3 linked regions of the Homo sapiens genome follow. The protein of the gene in region 1 interacts with the protein of each later gene in a pairwise test. Each region holds a gene or a part of one and is shown in the gene's direction. Other genes may lie near its edges.

Region 1 (4,981 bases):
GAACTAGAAATACCATTTGACTCAGCAATCCCATTACTGGGTATATACCCAAAGGATTATAAATCATTCTGCTCTAAAGACACATGCACACATATGTTTATTGTAGCACTGTTCACAATAGCAAAGACTTGGAACCATCCACAGTGTCCATCAATGATGGGCATTTGGATAAAGAAAATGTGGCACATATACACCATGGAATACTATGCAGCCATAGAGAAGATTTTCTTTTGCATCTGCTGGCATCCAGGAAATGCCACTGATCTTACAACTCCTTCAGCTTCCCTTGAGGGTCAGGGCTCAACAAAAGTTCAAATTGATCTACACTTCTCACTTTGTTGCTGGCCCAGGAGTTGCTTAGGTTTGGGAGAGCAATGTTGTTCCTCATATCTCCCCTCAGGGCAGCTTTAACCTCCTAGCTGCCCAATTCCAGGCTCTAGCCTTCTACCTCTTCAGCCACAGCTCCTAGCTTTTGTTTATGTTTTTCTTTTCAGAAAAAAATGTTAGTCATAATGCCAGAAATGGAAAACTTACTTTTACTATTTTCCACATTAAATACAGGTATAAAATAATTTTTAAAAAATTCCTCAAAGTCTGTGCTGATTTGGCAATAAATTTCCAGAGCACATTTATAATCATCAAACTTGTATGATATTAGTACAATTGTTGGCTCTTTGTTTAAGGTTATTCTTTCTATTGCCTATCTGACCTTGCTTTAAAGGGACCAGAATATACCACCCTGAAATTATACCACATTGTCTTAAGGATTATCTTGGCAATTGATACTCAATAGTTACAGGAAGAATTCTCTACCCTTTTAGGCTTTATCTGCTTAAAAGTAAGGCATGAGAAGGGTGACACACTAATTCCAGGGAGAGAGGAGGTACTGTTATCATTGAAGACAGAGCCAATACCAAGATGAGTATGCATAAATAGATTTTAATGAAAATAGCCCTTATCTTCCATTACTACACCCATATACTTCCATATAGTCTAGTTCCTTAAAGTCTCATAAAAAAGAAAAACCGAAAATACAAAAAAATTCAGTATGGGGTAGGGGGAGAGGGGAGGGATAGCATTAGGAGATATACCTAATGTTAAAAGATGAGTTATTGGGTGCAGCACACCAACATGGCACATGTATACATATGTAACAAACCTGCACGTTGTGCACATGTACCCTAAAACTTAAAGTATAATAAAAAAATCAGTATAAACATTTAATTGGATTTTTCTAGAATCATTTCAAAATTAATTTCTTATAGTCATAATTCAGAGGAGACTGCCTTATGTTGGTTCAAGGCCCCTTTGATTGGTTGCTATGAATCTCCTATTTTTTGGGAAACTGGCCCATTTTCAAGATAGATTACATGGCACCTAGCTCCAGAAACTCTATTTTGGTTTGATCATTTCAAATGACAGTCTCTCATAAACTTTAACAACTCCAAACCCCCTTTCCTTCATTAAGAGGGTAATAAACCTGAATGTAACCGCTTCAGTTCTAACCAACCTATTTTTTTGTGATTCCCAATGCACGTTAATAAAATGTATGTGCTTTTTCATGTTAAAAAATTCAAAATATTCAAAAACTTAAAGACTTAATTGGGGAAAAGAAACTTAATTGGGGAAAAGAAAGATGTTGCTTTCTCACTCCCAAATTAAGATATATTTTAATTATGTGTGTATATTATAAAGTTATAGTTTACTTTTAGATCAAGAAGAGAGCTCAAGGGTCATTTTTTTTTCTATACTTAAAAGTTTTCAGGTGAGGTTCAGAGAAGCTAAATGTTTTAACTAAGCTTATTCAGTTTGCTGGTGGCCAGGACTAAAACAGAGATGTTAAGACATAGTACTATATATTTTTTATCCACCAGCTCATGTTGCTCTTTTAGTTATGATAAAATTATTAAATGTCAGCTGGGCGTGGTGGCTAACACCTGTAATCCCAGCACTTTGGGAGGTTCAGGCAGGTGAATCACTTGATGTCAGGAGTTTAAGACCAGCCTAGCCAACATGGCGAAACCCCATCTCTACTAAAAACACAAAAATTAGCTGAGTGTGGTGGCAGCCGCCTGTAATCCCAGCTACTTGGGAGGCTGAGGCAGGAGAATCGCTTGAACCCAGGAAGCAGAGGTTGCAGTGAGCCGAGATCACACCACTGTACTCCAGCCTGGATGACAGAGCGAGACTCCATCTCAAAAAACAACAACAACAAAAATATTAAATGTCTACTAGTCAGTCTACCTTAATTTCTTTATGAAAAGTTTTACCGCAAAATTTTATATAGTCTTTATGGAATTATAGATAATTAAAATATGCCAATTATTTAGTCTTAACTTGAAATTCTGATTATAGAAGCTACAAACTTGTCCCTCTCTGTGCAGTAATACAATTACAGTTTATTATTAAACTAACAGGTGAAATTTTCTTTTAAAATAGACTTAAAAAAGAATTAGAACTTTATAAGGAAGATGACATGGAAAGTGTTTATGAAGCTCTCCAAACAGAAATAGAATTTTTGGAGTTGGTAAGTTATCATTGATTGTTTAACTTTTGTTCAGCATTATTTTACCTACTGGTAAGGAACGGTTTTACTGGTGTACAAATCACTGAACTAGTGTTTAATCCCTCTGCAAAAAACAGAAAAGCAATAATGAAGATAACTAGGATCAGGATGTAAATCTATGAAGTGTTTTGAGTTCCTAGAGAGTTAGGTGCTACATGAAGCAAATTATATTCAAAGAGAATATGTATGATTTCAAAGTAAGTTAAAAAAAAGCAACTTTAGATCTGACCTCATAACATTTCCTTGACTGAAACTGTTATTAGAGGATTACTGCACTGAAGGAAATTTAACTATCATAATGCCTTAAAAGCTTTTTGTTTTTGATAGGCATAAATTATACTTTTATTATATTTGATCCTAAAACTTTCTTATTGCGTATTTGTATAATCTCAAAAACCTTGAATTCAATTGTTGGAAATGTATTTTCAGATTGTGTAGGAGCACTTTAAATTGCTTTAACCTCTTACTTTGGTTGTTTATAAAATGAACACAGTATTTGCCATACTACATTTTAGTGAAAGACATGAATAGCTTTAAACTATCTTAAAATGTAGTTTTAATTTGATACATTGCATGTTGTTACATATTTTAGGTAAACATTTTCTTGTTCAAAAAATGTTTCAATAAGTTACCTTTGAATTTATTTTTTTTTATAAAAAATATAATTAAGAAATGCCCAGAATTTATTGTCATTAAATTTAGGTACATTTTATGTAATTATTTTATTAAGAATTTACTTTTCCTCATGAGTAATTACTATGTTTTCTTTTCAGACATTGGCACAGAAAGATCTTCAGGAAAGCAAATAACTTACAGAGAATTGATCAGCCATCTGAGATTTGATCAGAATATCTGAGAATCAAATCTTTGTGATAGATATATGAATGGTACCCGTTACAACGGATCCTTGTGGGAAATATGGGGTTTAAAATATTCAAATTGTTATTATCTAGAAATGATGTGTTAGCCCTTTAAGATAATTTTTGTCTTGTTACTCAAACTTTAAGAGTTCTTCTGTGGTTTGATTTTGTTTCTAAAAGAAGGAAAAGGAGAAGAAGTAGATACCGTGTTCCCAGGCTTCTTATATGCCCCTGAACCTCAAGCTGTCCTATTCTTTCTAATCTATATAATATGGTTTGGATCTGTGTCCATGCCCAAATCTCATGTTGAATTGTGATCCCCACTGTTGGAGGTGGGTCCTGATAGGAGGTGATTGGGTCATGGGGGTGGGTTTCTCATGAATAGCTTAGCACCATTCTTCTTGGTACTGTCCTTGAGTTCTCCTGAGAGCTAGTTGTTTACTAGTGTATAGCACTTCTCCACTTTGCTCCTGCTGCCACCGTATGAGATGTCTCACTCCCCCTTTGCCTTCAGTCATGATTGGAAACTTCCTGAGGCCTCCCTAGAAGCAGAAGTCACTATGCTTCCTGTACAGCCTGCAGAACCGTGGGACAATTAAACTTGTGTTCTTTGTAAATTACCCAGTCTCATGTATTTCTTCATAGCAATGCGAGAATGGACTGATACACTATACTTTTCATTTTTTGTTGTAGTTTACCTTGGGTCCAATGAAACACACATAGGAAGAAACATTCAGTTTATTGGCCCAGTTTTGTTGGTGCCACTTCCACTAACAAAGGTGCTTGCTTTCATTTTAATTATTCTCTAATCATAAAATGTCTGTTGACAGAGTTCCTCTGAGGACCTTCATCTGTAAAAGTTTTCCTACTTTTCACTGTGTTTCCATGAAGTCTGGGGCACCTGAAGCCATTTTCTGGTTAATGCCAGTGTTGGTTATAATGAAACAAATTATCCACGGGGATATGAATCCCCAGTGGATTATGAGGTACATAATCTCCTTAACAGCCATCAGGATTCATTTTCTCTGGTGACCTGAACTACTGCAACTGAAAACAGTGTAGTTAGGATCGGATCATACTTAGTATTGCTACCAAATTTCCAATATCACTTATCTTTCTGCCGTTACCATTTCTGACTAGACAGAAAGTCTATTGTCTGAAAGTGTATTGACTGATATAAGAATAGCTACTCCTGAAGTCATTATATGAAAAAGATACTTGCACATGAATGTTTATAGCAGCACAATTCGCAGTTGCAAAAATGTGGAACCAGCCCAAATGCCCATCAGTCAACGAGTGCATAAAGAAACTGTGAAATATATATACGATGGAATACTACTCAGCCTAAAAAGGAATGAATTAATGCCATTCACAGTGACCTGGATGAGATTGGAGAATAGTATCCTAAGTGAAGTAACTCAGGAATGGAAAACCAAACATTGTATGCTCTCATTCGTAAGTGGAAGCTAAGCTATGAGGATGCAAAGGCATAAGAGTGACACAATGGACTTTGGGGACTCAGGGGGAAAGGGTAGGAAGGGGGTGAGGGATAAAA
Region 2 (7,899 bases), on another chromosome or scaffold:
GGGCCTGGCCCTGAGTCCCCCAGCCAGGGTGACCTCTGTCCTGTGGGCACTCCTGTTGGATACATGCTGTGAGATAGATGGGCCCAGATAGACTGAGAGAGATGACAGCTGCACTCTTCTCACCACGTTACATACAGTCACACGTCTCATCCTCACCACAGCCAAGACTGGATAACCTCATCTGCAGAGGGGAAACTGAGGTACAGACAGGTAGAATCACCTGCCAAAGGTTGCCCAGTTCATAGTACCAGACCCATACCAGACCACGGGTCCATACCTGAGCAGCCTGACCCCAGGGTGTGTGCTTGGAGCCACCATACTAAACAGTCCTCCTTGCGAAGTCACTGGCTGCCCTCCATGCAGCATCCTGGAGCTTCTCCTGCTCCCACTGGAGAAGGCTCTGAATTGTCTAAAACAGATCCCCAGCCCCCTGAGGAACAGCAGGCAGTGGCAGCGTGGGGAGAGCAGACTTAGCTCTGTGCAGTCAATGTAGAGCCAGCCCCTTGGGCTTCTTGGGCGTTCTCGACCTCAGATATCCCTTCCAGAAAATAGGGCAGTGGCCCTGCGTGGAGACTAAGGTTGCCAGGAAGGAAGGAGGACCTAGAAGGTACTTTTCCAAACTTGGTAGTGGCCTGTGTCCTCTCTTTCTTTCTGACTCTTAGGGGAGTTTGGAGGTGGGGGTTGATGGGAGAAGAGAGGGTTGGGACAGCTGGTGCCAAAGACATGGGATTCAGCAGGTTCCCTTGTGGACCGTGTGCTCCAGCCGTGTGCTGTACGGACCCAGCGCGGCCCTCGGCTTCCAGGAGCTCGCACTCTGGATGGGAGGATCCAGCGCGAGTCTCGGGGTCCTGGGACAGGAGCCGCTGGACAGGGGGCTGTGGTGTGCCCCCCAGCAAGGCCCTTCTGATGTGTCATGGCAGGGCACGGTGGGCAGCAGTTGGCCCCAGCTGGGGCAGAGTCTCAGTTCTACCACTTGAGAACTGTGTCCTGGGCAAATATTGGCTTCTCTGTGCCTCTGCTTCTTTGTGTGAATAGTCAGCAGTTTGATCTTGGGGACCTGCCAGGGGCTGTGTCGCTGAAGACCCCGTGTATGTGGCCGGCTGGTACTGAGTGGGGGGCTGTGGCCTGCCCTTGCCCCACCCCTTGCCTGAGCCCTCTGAGTGCCAGCGGCCTGGGCAGGTGAAATCAGAGATGAGGGAGCGCCGGAGGCCAGGGCACCTTGGCGGTCATCTGCTCCCTCCTCCGCATGTGTGGGGCGGGCAGAGGCACCAGAGGAAGACACATATGTGACGGGGAAAGGTACATATTCGTGTTTGCTGACAATGAGACTTTGCGTCAATCGTGGGTCCTCACAGGCTGCCCCGGCTCCCCCCGCATCGGGAAGCTCCTGTCTTCTGCTCCCTGGCCTGGTCCCGCCTTCCCCCTCCATCAGCTGGTGTGAACTTGGCCACACACAGTTAGGAAGGAAAACTGCTCAGGCAAGGAAACGGTGTCGCCTCTCCCGGAGCCTTTCTTTTCCTGCCTGGCTGTTTTCTCAGTCCTGGCTCCCAGGCCCTGAATGTGTGTGCTGGAGAGGCAATCAGAACCCCCTTGGAGTGGGAGGAGGACTTGTCCGTCTCCAGTCCAGCCTCCCTGCCTGTCCCCTGAGTTACTGCTCTTACTGAGGGCGCTGTGGTGGTCATTCATAGACTCTCGGACTGCTGGGACACATTTCCAGCTAGAAGTGGCATCTGCCAGCCTGAAGGGCTGAGGCTGCTAGGGCTGTGCACAGCCTCAGCCCTATCTGCTGAGCGCCACGGGGCCTGGAGCGAGGGACTGATGCGATGAAGCTCCCTTCCTCCCCCAGAGCCCCGCAAGTCCAGCAGAGGCCACCTGTCTCTGGGGCCGGTGAGAGGGGGCCTTTGGTGGCCATTAACGCCGCTCTGCACATTGGAAATGCCAGGCAGAGCCGGGCTGCACCGTGGAGGCAGCAGAGTACCCCAGGCCTTCCTCCCATCTCAGCCTGCTCTTCCCTTTCAGTCCCTGACATTTCTCCCAGGCACATACCAGCACATGACAATGAATCTGAGCCCCTCCAGGCCCCCACACCCGGGCTGCGGCTGTCTCTGCTCATCTGTCAGTCACCCGATCCCCCACACCTGTTCCAGGCACAGCTGCCCACCCGCACGCACAGCTATGAATAGGGCGGAGGGAGGGTTGCAAGGGGGCACTCACAGGGCAGGGGACCGGGGCAGCTCTCATTTTTTCTTAGGCCAAGAAGCGTAGCTTGTTTTGGGTGGTTGCTCAGTGTGGGGGGATATGAGGGTGGACAGGAAATGTCAGGAAGGAGTATAGCTGCAGGAGAAGGGGTGAGGCTGTAATTAGAAGGATCCAGGCACTGAGGACGAGTCGAGGTGCTCTGGGGCGGTTCGTCCGTGTCGCCGGCTGGTGTGTTCCGGGTTTATGCAGTGTGAACATGAGTTCTGGGGCTGATTGTGGGATCTCTCTTTCTCCCCCTGACCCATTGCTCAACCCTAGCACTTGCATTCTATTTGTTCTCCCGATTATAAATTCCCTGAGAGCAGAAACAATGTCTCAACCTCTCTGGGCCCCCCTGCCTCTAGCACTGCTGGCCTGGGCTGGACAAATGGGCACCTGAGCGATGGGAAGAGCCAGGGAGTGGGAGCTGATGACAGAAGAGTGTATCTGAGATGGGGGTGGAGCTGGGGCGCAGAACTCTCAGGGTGAGCAGGACAGGGTAGGTTCCTGCTTGCGCCTGAGGGACCTTGCTCTTCCCACTGGTGCCACCCGGAGGTGAGAGGGTGAACAGCCGCCTGCAACCTTGATTGAAGGCCCACCCTACTAAGGCCCTGGGAGAGCTTAGTTCTTGCCTCCAGGGAGCATCGTATCTGGAAGGGGGCAAGGACATCTGGACAGATTATGACAAGCAGGGTAATAGAGGGGGATCTGCCAATTGCTCCTGGGGGCTGGGGGCAGCCGCTGCCTCTGTGTGTCTGGAAGAGCTGGGAGGTGTGGATGCCAGTCCTTCCCAGCTTGGCACACTGGATTCTTCTAAGATGGCACGTGAATATGCATTTTTTTAAATAGTTAAGTAGTTGCCCAGGCTCAGTGGCTCATTCTTGTAATCCCCCCACTTTGGGAAGCTGAGGCAGGAGGATCACTTGAGCCCAGGAGTTCGAGACCAGCCTGGGCAACATGGCGAAGCCCTATCCCTGTGTTTTAAAATAACTTTATTTGAAAATATGGAAAATAGTTATAGGCCAGACGCGGTGGCTCACGCCTATAATCCCAACACTTTGGGAGGCCGAGGCAGGTGGATCACTTGAGGCCAGGAGTTCGTGACCAGCCTGGCCGATATGGTGAAACCCCACCTCTACTAAAAAAAAAAAATACAAAAACTAGCCGAGCGTGGTGGTGGGCACCTGTAATCTCAGCTACTCAGGAGGCTGAGGCAGAAGAATCACTTGAACCCGGCAGGCGAAGGTTGCAGTGAGCTGAGATTGCACCACCACACTCCAGCCCAGGCGACAGAGCGAGATTCCGTCTCAAAAAATAAAATTAAAAAAATAGTTATATAGTTATTTTCATATATATTAGAAAGAATAGAATCCTTGATTTCATGGATTTATTGCTTAGAATGGAATTAAGGAATAAAAGTGAGTTGATTTCAAAGAATCAGGATGTGTCGTAGATGGCACATGAATGTGGCATTGATCAGAGGGACCATGCGCGGTTAAAATCTGAGGGTCACCACCATTGATGCCTGGCCTCACCTCTTGGTGTTCCCCACCATGTCCAGTGCATCCTTCCCAGGCAGCTGGGCTTCCTGCCAGCGGCATTTCAGGCATTGTTCACATTTTTGCCCTGTGCTTCCAGCTACAGAATATGTCCTGAGCACACAAACTGTCCCCCAGGCCCTTTTTAGGAACAGTCTGACAAAGTCAGTCTCCTAGGAGGAGCAGGTGACTTCGAGAAAATAGGAGACAGGCCAGGTGCAGTGGTTCACACCTGCAATCCCAACACTTTGGGAGGCCAAGGTGAGAGGATCACTTGAGGTCAAGAGTTTGAGACCAGCCTAGGAAACAGCGAGACCCTGCCTCTACAAAAAATTTAAAAATTAGCCAGGTGTGGTGGCACATGCCTATAATCCTGGCTACTCAGGAGGCTGAGGTGGGAAGACTGCTTGAATCCAGGAGTTCGAGGCTGCAGTGAGCCGTGATCATACCACTGTACTCCAGCCTGAGTGACAGAACAAGATTCTGTCTTTAACAAAAAAAAAAAAAAAGAAGAAGAAGAAGAAAACAGGAGCCCGAAAGCCTGGGTTCTGGTCCCATTCACCTTATATTTGCCTGTAAGACCTTCGGCCAGTCACAGCCACAGTTAAATCTAGTCCGGCAGAGGCCTCAGCCACCTCTGCCATGCCATCCTGGGCACCCTGCCTACAATGTGTCATCCCCTCCCTCCCAGCATCACAGATGGAGACAGAGTGGGGAGACTGAGGCCAGCTCAGGGGTGGTAGTGGAGGGTGTTTAGGATAAATGCTGCTGTCTGTTTCAGAGGCTGAGCATTGACACGAATGCTTTTTTTCCCTAAAGGCCTCATCAAAGCCGAGGCAGGTGCACTGAACCATATGCCATTCTGTTTCAGCATGAAAACAGCCTTTTTTTCCTCATCATAAACGTAATCCACCCTCATTCTGCTCCGTAGCCTGCTTTCCCACTCAGTGTGTTTGTAGTCATCCATGATAATAAATGCAGGTCCTTCTCAGCGTTTTTTTGTGGCTACATAATGTTTCTATTGTGCTATAGACAATCAACACCCACCGCCAGTCTAGAGAAAGGTCCTGCTCTGGGAAAACTTCTCCAAAGGAGAGAAAAATAACGATTGAGTGTCCCCTCATGGCCAGTAGTAGAATTGCTTGGTGCCTGGCTCTGAATCTGACCAAAACCTTCCTGGGGTTCTAGGGATCCCCTTATCTTTGCACAGAAGAGTCCTTGGTGTCAGAACCTTGACCAAGGCCTGACGCTTTACTGCATTCGTAGGGCTGCGCTCTGGGCACAGCTTGCAGTGATTTCAGACCGGGGTGTGGGTGGGAGGAGCGGCCTCCCCTGAGAATAAGCCTTTGTAATGTGCCTGTGCGTTGTTTCTGAGTCTTGACTTGTTCTCTTAGCACCCCTGGCTCAGATGGGGTGATTTGATGTGGGGCTGGAGTTCTGGGCATGGGGACCCCTAAGGCGTAGGGCTTCAGGAATACAATTCCTGCCTCAGAGTCCCCAAAGCACCAAATTGTCTCATCTGGTGCCTTCCTTTCTTCGCTGTGGCACTCTGCTGGTTTGGGACAAGTATTGGGGTTGGAGGCTGAAGACCTGGGGTCTTTCACTTACTAGTTGGATGGTGTTGGGCAAGGCTAACAGTCAGGACCCCTCATGGATAAAACCGAGGCCGTGGTTTTGGGTGTGAGATCAGCACAGAGTCTTACTCCGCCTTTTCTAGAAGGGAAGTTTCAGATCAGCCCCACATCCAGCAGGAGGCCCCCTGGGCTCTGTTTTCATCAGGGGAAGGAAGAGCAGCCTGTCTGAGGCAAGGTGAGAAGCTGACCTAGAGGACCAGTGTCTGGGCCTGTGAAGGGCCTTGTGAGCCAGGCCGGGGACCAAGACTCCTGTCCCTTGTGGCTAAATGGCTCAATGAGACGGTGAAGTGACTTGACTTCTGAAGAGATTCCCGGGGCAGTTAAGAGAATGAACCAAAGGGAGGGACAGCTGGTGCTGGGGAGATTGCTCTGGAGGCTGAAGCAGAGATGTCAAAAGATCCAAGGTGACGGGACCCAGCAGTGCCTAGAGGGGGAAGAGGCCAGCCCCAGAGCCGTTTCTGAGGGAGCATCGATCAGGTCTCTGGCGAGACAAGAGGATGAGACAGGAGCAGCATTCACCCCTTCCACCCTCCCCACTGCCGGTCTCTTGCCCTGGTTTTCTGTTCTCATGCTTCCTGCACTATCAAAATTGACTCTGGAATAATTCTGATAGACGCATTCAAACTAAAATAGAGCTGACTGGTAGAGATTCAAACCTTTGCAGTTTAACAAGAACAAAGTCTTAGACTATGAAACTTGAAATCTTAAAGATGGAATCTGGGGCTCCCACCTGCTGGGTGTGTTAATATCTGGGCAGGCAGCAGTGGCCTGAAACTGTGTGGGTCCCAGTGTCCTCTTTTCCCATGATTTAGGCAACACGACCTGATTTTGTACCAGGCAGAGATGTAGAGGAATGTGGAAGCTTTCTGGCGTCCTACTGTCTACCCTCAGTCTGATTTCTTCCCAGCCCTAGAGCCGGGACCGGGACCCTGAGGTCTCCTTGATGCTCCCGTCTGACATGGCACCTGCTGACACTCCCTCGCCTTCCCACTGTCTCCCTCCAGGCAGACCTCAACACCAACATCGAGGATGAAGGCAGCTCCTTCTATGGGGTCTCCAGCCAGTATGAGAGCCCCGAGAACATGATCATCACCTGCTCCACGAAGGTCTGCTCTTTCGGCAAGCAGGTGGTGGAGAAAGTTGAGGTAGGAGGCCACCCTGGCGGGTGAGGGCCGGTGGCAGTGGTCTGTGTTTGCTGGGCATGGCTTCCATTTGCTTTCAGGAGGAATGCCCTCCGTTAGGGAGCCAGGATAATCCCTTGTTGCCTTCCCTGTCTGCTGTCAGTGCTGTGTGCCTCCCACACTCCCCTTGGCACCAGTGTCCTGCCCAGCTAACCAGAGCCATTGCTGCCCTTTCAGGATCTTCCAAGCACGTCCTTGCAGGCACCCCCGGTCCTCTCCAAGAGCAGAGCCGCAGCACAGGCAGAGCCCTGGGCATCTACCTAGTCCAGCCCTCTGGCTTCACAGTGGAGGCCCAGAGAGAGCGGAGGCCTCCCACCAATCGCCCGCACATGGTCACACAGCTCATTAGTGCAGAAGCAGGGCTAAGATCTCTGTCCCCTGCTCACTTTGAACTCCATGAATGCCTAAAACTGTTCCTTCCCTGATTTTCTGCTTATGGGTACCCTGGAGACCCTGCTCTAATGGAAGTTACAGAAAATTCAGGCCTGCCTTTTATGGTTTCTCCCACTCTGCTAAACCCCCGGCCAAGGGCAGTGCAGGGCAGTGGTGAGGAGCATAAGCGCAGGTGAATCCCCACCCAGGCACCCTGCTTTCCGGTGCGTGTCTGGGGGGTTGTGATAAAATCCTCTGTATTTTGGCCCTAAACAAGGGCCAAGTTATCTTCACTGTCCGTGACACGGTCTCCTGCAGCACCCTGTGTTCTGGGCCCGCTGCGTAGTGGCAGTGACAAGGAGCTGGGACTGAAGGCCTCCAACCCAAAGCACCTGTGGACTCTGAGAGTCCGGGGCCCTGTGCCGCCCACACACTTGTTAAACCTCCTCACCGTGCAGGCCAGTCTTCGTCCCTCTCCTCACCCCTTCCCCAGATTGGTCTGAATTAATGAAGTCCTACTCTCACAGTCTGTCAGTTATTGATAGCCTTCCTCATGCCAAATGCAGCCAGATGCCCGGCCAGCACCAGGGAGGAGACATTACTCCACACAGTGCTTCTCCGCCTGGCTGCACCTTGCAGTCTCCTGGGAGCTTTGGAAACACACCAGTGCCTGAAACCCATTCATCACCCCTCAGTCTCTAGGGTAGAGTCCAGGCATTAGTGGTTTTTAAAAAGTTCCTCAAATTATTTATTTCTAATTAAACTTGTAAAACTTTTGAGATAATGGTGGATCCACTTGGGCTCATAATCCCATGTGCGCTTTACCCAGCTCTTGCCCTGGCCATATCTTGCATAACTAGAGTGTAAAGTGGACAACCAGGAAATTGACGTTGATGCAGTCCACCAAGCTGGTTCAGATTTCACCAGTTTTATCGG
Region 3 (7,899 bases), on another chromosome or scaffold:
TGACACGTATTAGATATGTGATGAAAATTCATTAAATGCATCACCTAATGTCTTGCTCCTTCTCTTGTAGACTCTAGGTTACTTGCAGGGGAATGGGCACATCTCTTTCATCCCTTTCATTCCTGTATCACCTGCAGCATCTAGCTCTACATCTTGCTAATAGCAAAAACTCATTTTCTGCCTTGTAGAATGAACTACTACGAAGGCCTTGAGAGTCATCCCCTCATCTGATGTGAAGCCGAGGGTATCCCAGCTAACACTCATTATACTAGAACAACTTCCCCCTCCTCCTACAGCTTCAGGGAGTTCATGGAACCACTTGAAGCTCCTCCAGTATCCCCACTCTCTGAGCTCATTGAAGAGCTCTTAGAGGTGAAAAGTCAGCAGAGAGACCATTGTCAGTGCCACTCTGTCAAGAGCCCGTTTTTCAGCATCTCACTAACTCTGACATTTCCCATCTCATTCTCTTTCTTCTTGCCAAGAGCCACTGCTTCTTTATGGTCACTGTGTTCTCTCTGTTACCTCCTTTAAAGCTTTCTTGACTCTGCTCCTCTCCTTTGCTCTCTTCTCTGTGTTTAGCTTTGAAGCCCCAACTGCTCACATGCAGTCCTAGGATTTCTCTCCCCACCTGCAGCAATGCCCCTTTTCCCTAAGAGTTCCTGCCCTGCCCGTAGCCCCTGGAGGCTGTTCTGGAGCTGTTCTGGGCTGTCCTAGCTGAGGTGCTGGAATCCCTCTGCTCTTCCTTTTTCTTCCCCTGGCACAGTGCCACTTGCCATCTTTCTGGGCATCTTCCTCTTGCTGTCAAAAAAAAAATACCGACAGAGAACTACTTAGGTGAAGGCTGAGAGGCTGACATAAAAAAAATATTATTAGTTGGCCTGAGAGAGTGTAATAAAGGGAGTTTTATGAGGTATGACAGCTTTCTAAAGTTAACAAACCATCTGGCATTATGTCAAACAGACAAAGAGCTTGCCAGGAGCTGGCACTGGTGCCCAGCCCCATTTGGGCATGGTGGGATTGACCTTCCCCTCCTTACCTGGAGGCCACATTTGCTGTTTCTCCACAGTGAAAACAGTAAATGGGAATTCTTTGGTAGTGCAGAGTCTGAGTCTGTTCCCTCTGCCCAGCGTCTCTGTTTAGAACATACTGCAGGAGTGTCCACTGTACCAAGAAGGGTAGAAAGGGTCAAAAGAAAGCACGAGCCTGGCTTTGAGCAGCCTGCTTTGGTAATGTATCCCAAGGCCACAGTACAAAAGTCAAGAATACGTTGGACAGAAGACACCTTAATTGGAAACCTCCTTTGACTTAGTGTGAGAGGACAAGACACAATCCCAGTGTGGATGTTTTGCTCATCAAACAGGGCCCAGCACACACACCAGCCAGGTGCCCTCTTCCATGCAGTCAGCACCACTGCTAGTTTGGGGTCTTGACTAGAGGTCCACCTTTGGCCCACAGTTGCCCTGGGTAGGCCTGACAGACTCAGGGATGGTCTCTGTTGGCCTCTCCTAGGTACGCTCCACCTGCCCCCGGTTTAAGGGAGCATGACCGATGTGGCCGCATTTCAGGAGCACTAGGATATAATCTAACCTGGAGGCCAATTGTAAACAAGGGTTATTTAAGTAGCTTCACCAAGTATCATACTACCTGGTTATATTATCTTCTCACAGGCTGGTGTGAATCTCTGAGGCAGCCATATAAGTAAATAATAGGCTAGCAATGATAGCAGTTAACCTCTATTGAACTCCTGTTATGTGGCAGGCACTAGGGGAAGAACTTGGCACAGGTAGCCTGCCTGCCCACAGCAACCCTAGGTAGTAAATATTGGTATTCCCATTTTGCAGATGAGGAAATTGAGTCTAAAGAGTTTAAGAAAGTTGTCCAAGTCACATAGCTCGTAAGTGACAGGGCTAGGATTTGAACTCAAGGTGGTCTAAATCTAAAATACCTCCTTATCTGAGGCAAGAGGATTGCTTGAAGCCAGAAGTTTGAGACCAGCCTGGGCAACAAAGCAAAGCCCTGTCTCTACAAAAAATTTTAAAAATTAGCTGGGCATGGTAATGCATGCCTGCATTCCTAACTACTATGAGCTCACCACTGCACTCCAGCCTGAGTGACAGAGCAAGACACCATTTCTAAAATAAAATAATAAATACAAATAAAATACAATATAAATAAAATAATAAAACCTGCTTTTTACCCACCTATGAAGCCTGTGAATGTAGTACAAATGCCACACCCTTGAGCAGCTGTGGAATTCTGGGTTACAGGGAGATAGTTAGATGTAAGAATTTATGGTGTGAAGTGCTAGCTCTGTTACCCTAAAGGATAATGCAAACAATGAATGCTTGCTTCCCATTTCAGTTTCTTCATTTATAAAATAGGCACATGCAGCCAGGCGCAGTGACTCACACCTGTAATCCCAGCACTTTGGCAGGCTGAGGTGGGTGGATCACGAGGTCAGGAGTTCAAGACCAGCCTGGCCAAGATGGTGAAATCCTGTCTCTACTAAAAATACAAAAATTAGCTGGTCGTGGTGGCAGATGCCTGTAATGGTGAAACCCTGTCTCTACTAAAAATACAAAAATTAGCTGGGCATGGTGGCAGGTGCCTGTAATCCCAGCTACTTGGGAGGCTGAGGTGGGGAACGGCTTGAACCCAGAGGCGGAGGTTGCAGTGAGCCAAGATCATGCCACTGCACTCCAGCCTGGGCAACAGTGTGAGACTGTCAAAAAAAAAAAAAAAAAAAAAAGCACGGGCAAAAAACATACCCCTAATATTTTTAAAACAAATATTTTCACTGAAGCTGCCTCTCACTGCCACCACTGCCATTGCTACCTACAGATGTTCCTGAGCAGTTGGAAGTTCTTTGTCTCATCTGATATATATATATATATTTTCAAAGACCCAAAATACTTTAGTGATGGAAACAGTAATCTGTGACTAAAGATATTTGTTCAATCTGAATTTTTTGTTTGTGTGTTTGTTTGCAGAGAATGGCAAATCGGTTCATTGGAAACTTGGAGCTGATAAGGAAGTCTGGGTATGGGTGATGGGCGAACACCATCTAGATAAACCCTATGATGTGCTCTGTAATGAAATTATTGCTGAGAGGGCCCGGCTGAAAGCAGAACAGGAGGCAGAAGAGCCCAGGTATGAGATCTGCAAACCAACCAGAGACTTAAAGACTCTCCAGACTTTAGAAAACATTGCAAACACACCTCTTGCTCACAGTATCAGGTGGGAGAGTAGGGTTGGGTTGGAGGGTCACAAAAGTCACTTTGGATCTCTTTGGAAGGTTGATTTAGACTTTTGGTCTAAAGACCTTTTGGATCTCTTTAGAAGGTTGATTTAGACTTTTGATCTAAAGTCTTTGATAGCACTAAAGACCTCATGAAAATCTTTAGTGCTGTCAAATCAGCTGCTTCATCTCCCTGCTTGTCATTCCAGTTTTGATCTGTATGAGTGTATGAGTTCCCCAGTGATCACCCGTGGCTGCACTAGAGTCATGTTAGAGCAATGCAGGCCGACGCAGCTGAGTATCAGGAACATATGTGAGAAATGCAGTGACTGTGCAAGCTTCAGGCCTTCCAAGGAGATCACTTAGATACAGGCGGCTGGATAATCAGGCTCTTTAGGTGCCTACCCAGTGCAAGGTACTGGGAATTCAAAGAGAAACAGGGAGCTTCCAGTCTAGGAGGAGAAGTAGACATATGCACAGCTCACTGCGGCCAGTGCAGGCTGTGATTTGTGCTATAATTAAGGTACAAACAGAAAGTTTACCAAGCATAGGTGGGAACCTATCATTCTGATCCACAGACGAGGTGAAATCTGAACCAAACCTTGAAAGGAGTGGTTTTCCAGCTACAGAAGGCCAGGAAGGAAAGTGCAGGCAGAGGGCTTAACCAAGATCCCTAGACTTGACTACGGATGGTTCTTTGGGGAATGATGAGGTCTTCTGAGCATTTGGAATACACTTGGACAACTGCTTCAGAGGCCAGATTTAGGAGTTTGGAACTTATTCTCTGGACGGTGAGGTTTTTCAATAGGGAAGTGACATCAACTGCAGATGTAGGAAGGTAACTCGGAGGGAAACTGAGGCAGGTGATGGCGCTCCTCTGCTGGGTACCTGGGGTGCTCTGGGTGTCCTCCTCTGGCTCTGGGCAGTGATGTTGACAGCCTTACCCTGAGGTGGTGAAGTGGAAATTGGGACAGACATGAGGACCACCGTTCAGTTCCCAAGGGCTAGGGATGCAAAGCAGACTCTGTGGCACAGTGGATGGTGCATTGGACTTTCAAGGGCTGGGATGCTGCCCACTAGTGCCTGTAACTTTAAAACTATCCATGGACATATGAAGATAAAGGAATTATTTAATCATCGATTGGAAGCAGACGGTGTGGTTCTAATAGGTTAACTTCTAAACCAGGAGTTGAGCAGACCAGGGTTCAGATCTTGGCTGTACCACTATGTGGTCTTGGATGAATTACAAAATTTCTTGGAGCTCTTATAACAAAGTGAGGATGACAATGCCTTCCTCACAGGGTTGTGATGAGGATGAAGTTAACGTCTTTACACACCTAGCAAAGGGCCCAGCATGTTAGAAGCACTCAGTAAGTGGTGTCAGTTACTGTTTTTCACATAATTTGAATGTCGACATATGCTTTGGAAAGGCTCTTCCTGTTGAAGAATGTTTTTTGAGAATTTCACTTTTGCCTCTCTTCAGAAAAACTCACTCTGAAGAATTCACCAATAGCTTGAAAACAAAATCACAGTACCATGATCTGCAGGCTCCGGATAACCAGCAGACTAAAGACATCTGGAAGAAAGTGGCAGAAAAGGAGGAACTGGAGCAAGGATCGAGGCCAGCACCAACCCTGGAAGAAGAGAAAATCCGAGTGAGTCCTTACTGTCTGTAGACGTGCGGAATTTCATCATGGGGGAGAAAAAGCTATTGAGGCCACAGAGACTACTGTGGCTGAGTGTCAGGATCCTCCAGTGGCTTTCTTGGGAGAAATGCCTCCTAACTTTAAGATCCTCCAGGGCAGGCACGGTGGCTCATGCCTGTAATCCCAGCACTTTGGGAGGCCAAGGCGGGCGGATCACGAGGTCAGGAGATCGAGACCATCCTGGCTAACACGGTGAAACCCCGTGTCTACTAAAAATACAAAAAAAAAAATTAGCTGGGCGTGGTGGCGGGCGCCTGCAGTCCCAGCTACTCGGGAGGCTGAGGCAGGAGAACGGCGTGAACCTGGGAGGTGGAGCTTGCAGTGAGCCGAGATTGCGACACTGCACTCCAGCACTCCAGCCTGGGCGACAGAGCGAGACTCCATCTCAAAAAAAAAAAGATCCTCTTGCTCATGTCACTTGGGGGATTTACCTTCCATGCTACATCATGGAAAATAAAGCACCCCTATTTCATGAGACTGAAAGTAACAAGAACGCTAGGAATGCAATTTGGCATTTTAAGATATTTTCAGGTTCTCCTCAATGCTGCCCCATTATATGTCTTCTGTTACAGCAGAGGTTGGCAAACATTTTCTGTAAAGTGCAACATAGTAAATGGTTTAGGCTTTATGGGCCATGCCATCTTTGTCACAGCTATACACAAATGAATGAGCATGGCTGTGTTCCAATAAAACTTTATTTTCAAGCACAGGCTGAGGGGCAGATTTGGCCTGTTCATGATTTAGATTACATTCTACTGAGTCTTAGCCTTTTTGTTGCGGATTCTAAACATCAGTGCCTGTTGGGCTTCATTGGCTCTGCCTGTGACTTGGGGACAGTTACCTCCCCAACATAATAGAAATTTTATACTCAGAATTGGTATGAATTCTCTTATGGTTCAGATGGTTTAAAAAACTCAAACATAATTTGCTGGTTGGATTATAGTTTGGGAGAACAATGAAACACCTTATTATTCTACCAGGAATTTAATTACACTGAGAATTAACAGGGATTTGCAGTTGTTTGATTTCCATTTATGTCTCCAGCCCTGCAGCACTGGCTGTGTGTGCTTTTGACTTCTTTGAGGCTATCATATGGGAATACAGGTATCTCCTGCCTCCTCCTAGGACCTAGTGAGACTCTGATAACTAACATGGTCAGGGGTTATTCCACAGCAAAGCACACTGCTGAGTGTCTCATGTAATCCTCACAATAACATGAACTAGAGACATTTGTCCATTTTACAGCTGGGGAAACTGAGGCTAGGTGTGGTTAAGCAACCTGCCCAAGGTCTTATTCAAACCCAGGTCTGCAGGACCCCCAGGCTATTCCTTAAATATTAACTACTAACTCCTTAATTCTTAACTCTCATGTTTGGTTGTGTCATTAATATGAGGGCTATGAAGAAGCTTTTTATGAAGGGCTACAAATATGAGGCTCAAAATATTTAGGAAGAGAAAATTCTAAATTTGGTTTTTCATCTCAAGGTCAGCCCTGGACATGCTCCCCACATCCTCATTGAGGCCTCCCGTCCTCCCCAGGTGTGCTTTGCACTCAGCATGTGTAACACTAAACTCCCCCAACACGGCTCCCCTTCCCACACCCCTCCAACCAAGAACAACAGTAATAACAAGAAAGCTCCTTCCAGAGTATTAATTATGCAGCTGAGTGTGTTTGCTCACACTTGTAATCTCAGTGCTTTTGGAGGCCGAGGCAGGAGGATCCCTTTTGAGGCCAGGAGTTCCAGACAAGCCTGGGCATAATCCTGCAGAGACAGTGAGACCCCCATCTCTACAAAAAATTAAAAAAAAACAGCCAAGCATGGTGGTGCATGCCTGTAGTCCTAGCAACTCAGGAGGCTGAGGCAGGAGGATCGATTGAGCCCAGGAATTTGAGGCTGCAGTGAGTCCTGATTACACCACTGTACTGTAGCCTGGGGGACCAAGTGAGACCCTAAGTCTTAAAAAAAAGTATTAAGTATGTATGCTTATATTTGTGCTTGAATTACAGTACTTTTTTAGACCTTTTTTTTTCAAAAGTAGGACAAAAGATTAAAATGGAAATTAAAATAGATACCACAGTTATTATTCTTTAACCATCTCATAAATATTATATTGAGAGTGGCACTGTTGCCTTCCTTAGGTGCCTGCTAAACTGACATATGGAAAGAGATGGGGGCAGGGGAGAAAGAAATATTCAGATAGAAGGAATATGGAAATAGATGGGTGACAGGTTTTTATATTCCTGCTTTTTATCTTTCCCTGTGTCAGAGAAGATGCTGTCAGGGGCTCCTGTGGTATTTGCTGAAGTTCACTCTGACAGCAGGCCACACAGCGAGGAGCCTGATTTCACAGCTAGTGTGAGCCTTTAAAGAGGTCGTCTGCTACCTCTCAGACAACTGACTCGATGGTACATTTATATTTTTATTGTAAGTTGTGTATATGTCACTATAGTGGTCTGAATATTTATCCCCCGAAATTTATGTCCACCTAGAACCTCAGAATGTGAGCTTATTTGGAAATAGATCTTTGCAGATGTAATTAAAGTAAAGGATCTCAAGATGAGATCACCCTGGATTTAGGGTGGATCCTAAATCCCAAGACAAGTGTCCTTATAAGAGGAGAGCCAAGGAAAATGTGAGAGAGAGTGTACTAGTCTGTTTTCATGCTGCTGATAAAGACATACCCAAGATTGGGCAGTTTACAAAACAAAGAGGTTTAATGGACTTACAGTTCCATGTAGCTGGGGAGGCCTCACAATCACTGTGGAAGGTGAAAGGCACGTCTAACATGGCAGCAGACAAGAGAGCTTGCGCAGGGAAATTCCCATTTATAAAACCATCAGATCTCATGAGACCCACTCACTATCACAAGAACACCATGGGAAAGACCCACCCCCATGATTTAACTGCCTCCCACCAGGTTCCTCCCACAACACATGGGAATTGTGGGAGTTAC

The links.
Region 2: the proteins of CCDC172 (region 1) and TEAD4 interact in binary tests that used the Homo sapiens proteins (3 or more experiments, as listed by UniProt).
Region 3: the proteins of CCDC172 (region 1) and SH2D4A interact in binary tests that used the Homo sapiens proteins (3 or more experiments, as listed by UniProt).

Annotation. Positions count from the first base shown.
Region 1 is NC_000010.11:116,375,984-116,380,964, forward strand, and holds the end of CCDC172 (coiled-coil domain-containing protein 172), read left to right. Parts: intron 1-2,439; coding exon 2,440-2,527; intron 2,528-3,339; coding exon 3,340-3,375; 3' UTR 3,376-4,046; downstream 4,047-4,981.
Region 2 is NC_000012.12:3,031,554-3,039,452, forward strand, and holds part of TEAD4 (transcriptional enhancer factor TEF-3), read left to right. Parts: intron 1-6,414; coding exon 6,415-6,555; intron 6,556-7,899. UniProt on the Homo sapiens protein: Transcription factor which plays a key role in the Hippo signaling pathway, a pathway involved in organ size control and tumor suppression by restricting proliferation and promoting apoptosis.
Region 3 is NC_000008.11:19,329,965-19,337,863, forward strand, and holds part of SH2D4A (SH2 domain-containing protein 4A), read left to right. Parts: intron 1-2,990; coding exon 2,991-3,150; intron 3,151-4,721; coding exon 4,722-4,893; intron 4,894-7,899. UniProt on the Homo sapiens protein: Inhibits estrogen-induced cell proliferation by competing with PLCG for binding to ESR1, blocking the effect of estrogen on PLCG and repressing estrogen-induced proliferation. May play a role in T-cell development and function.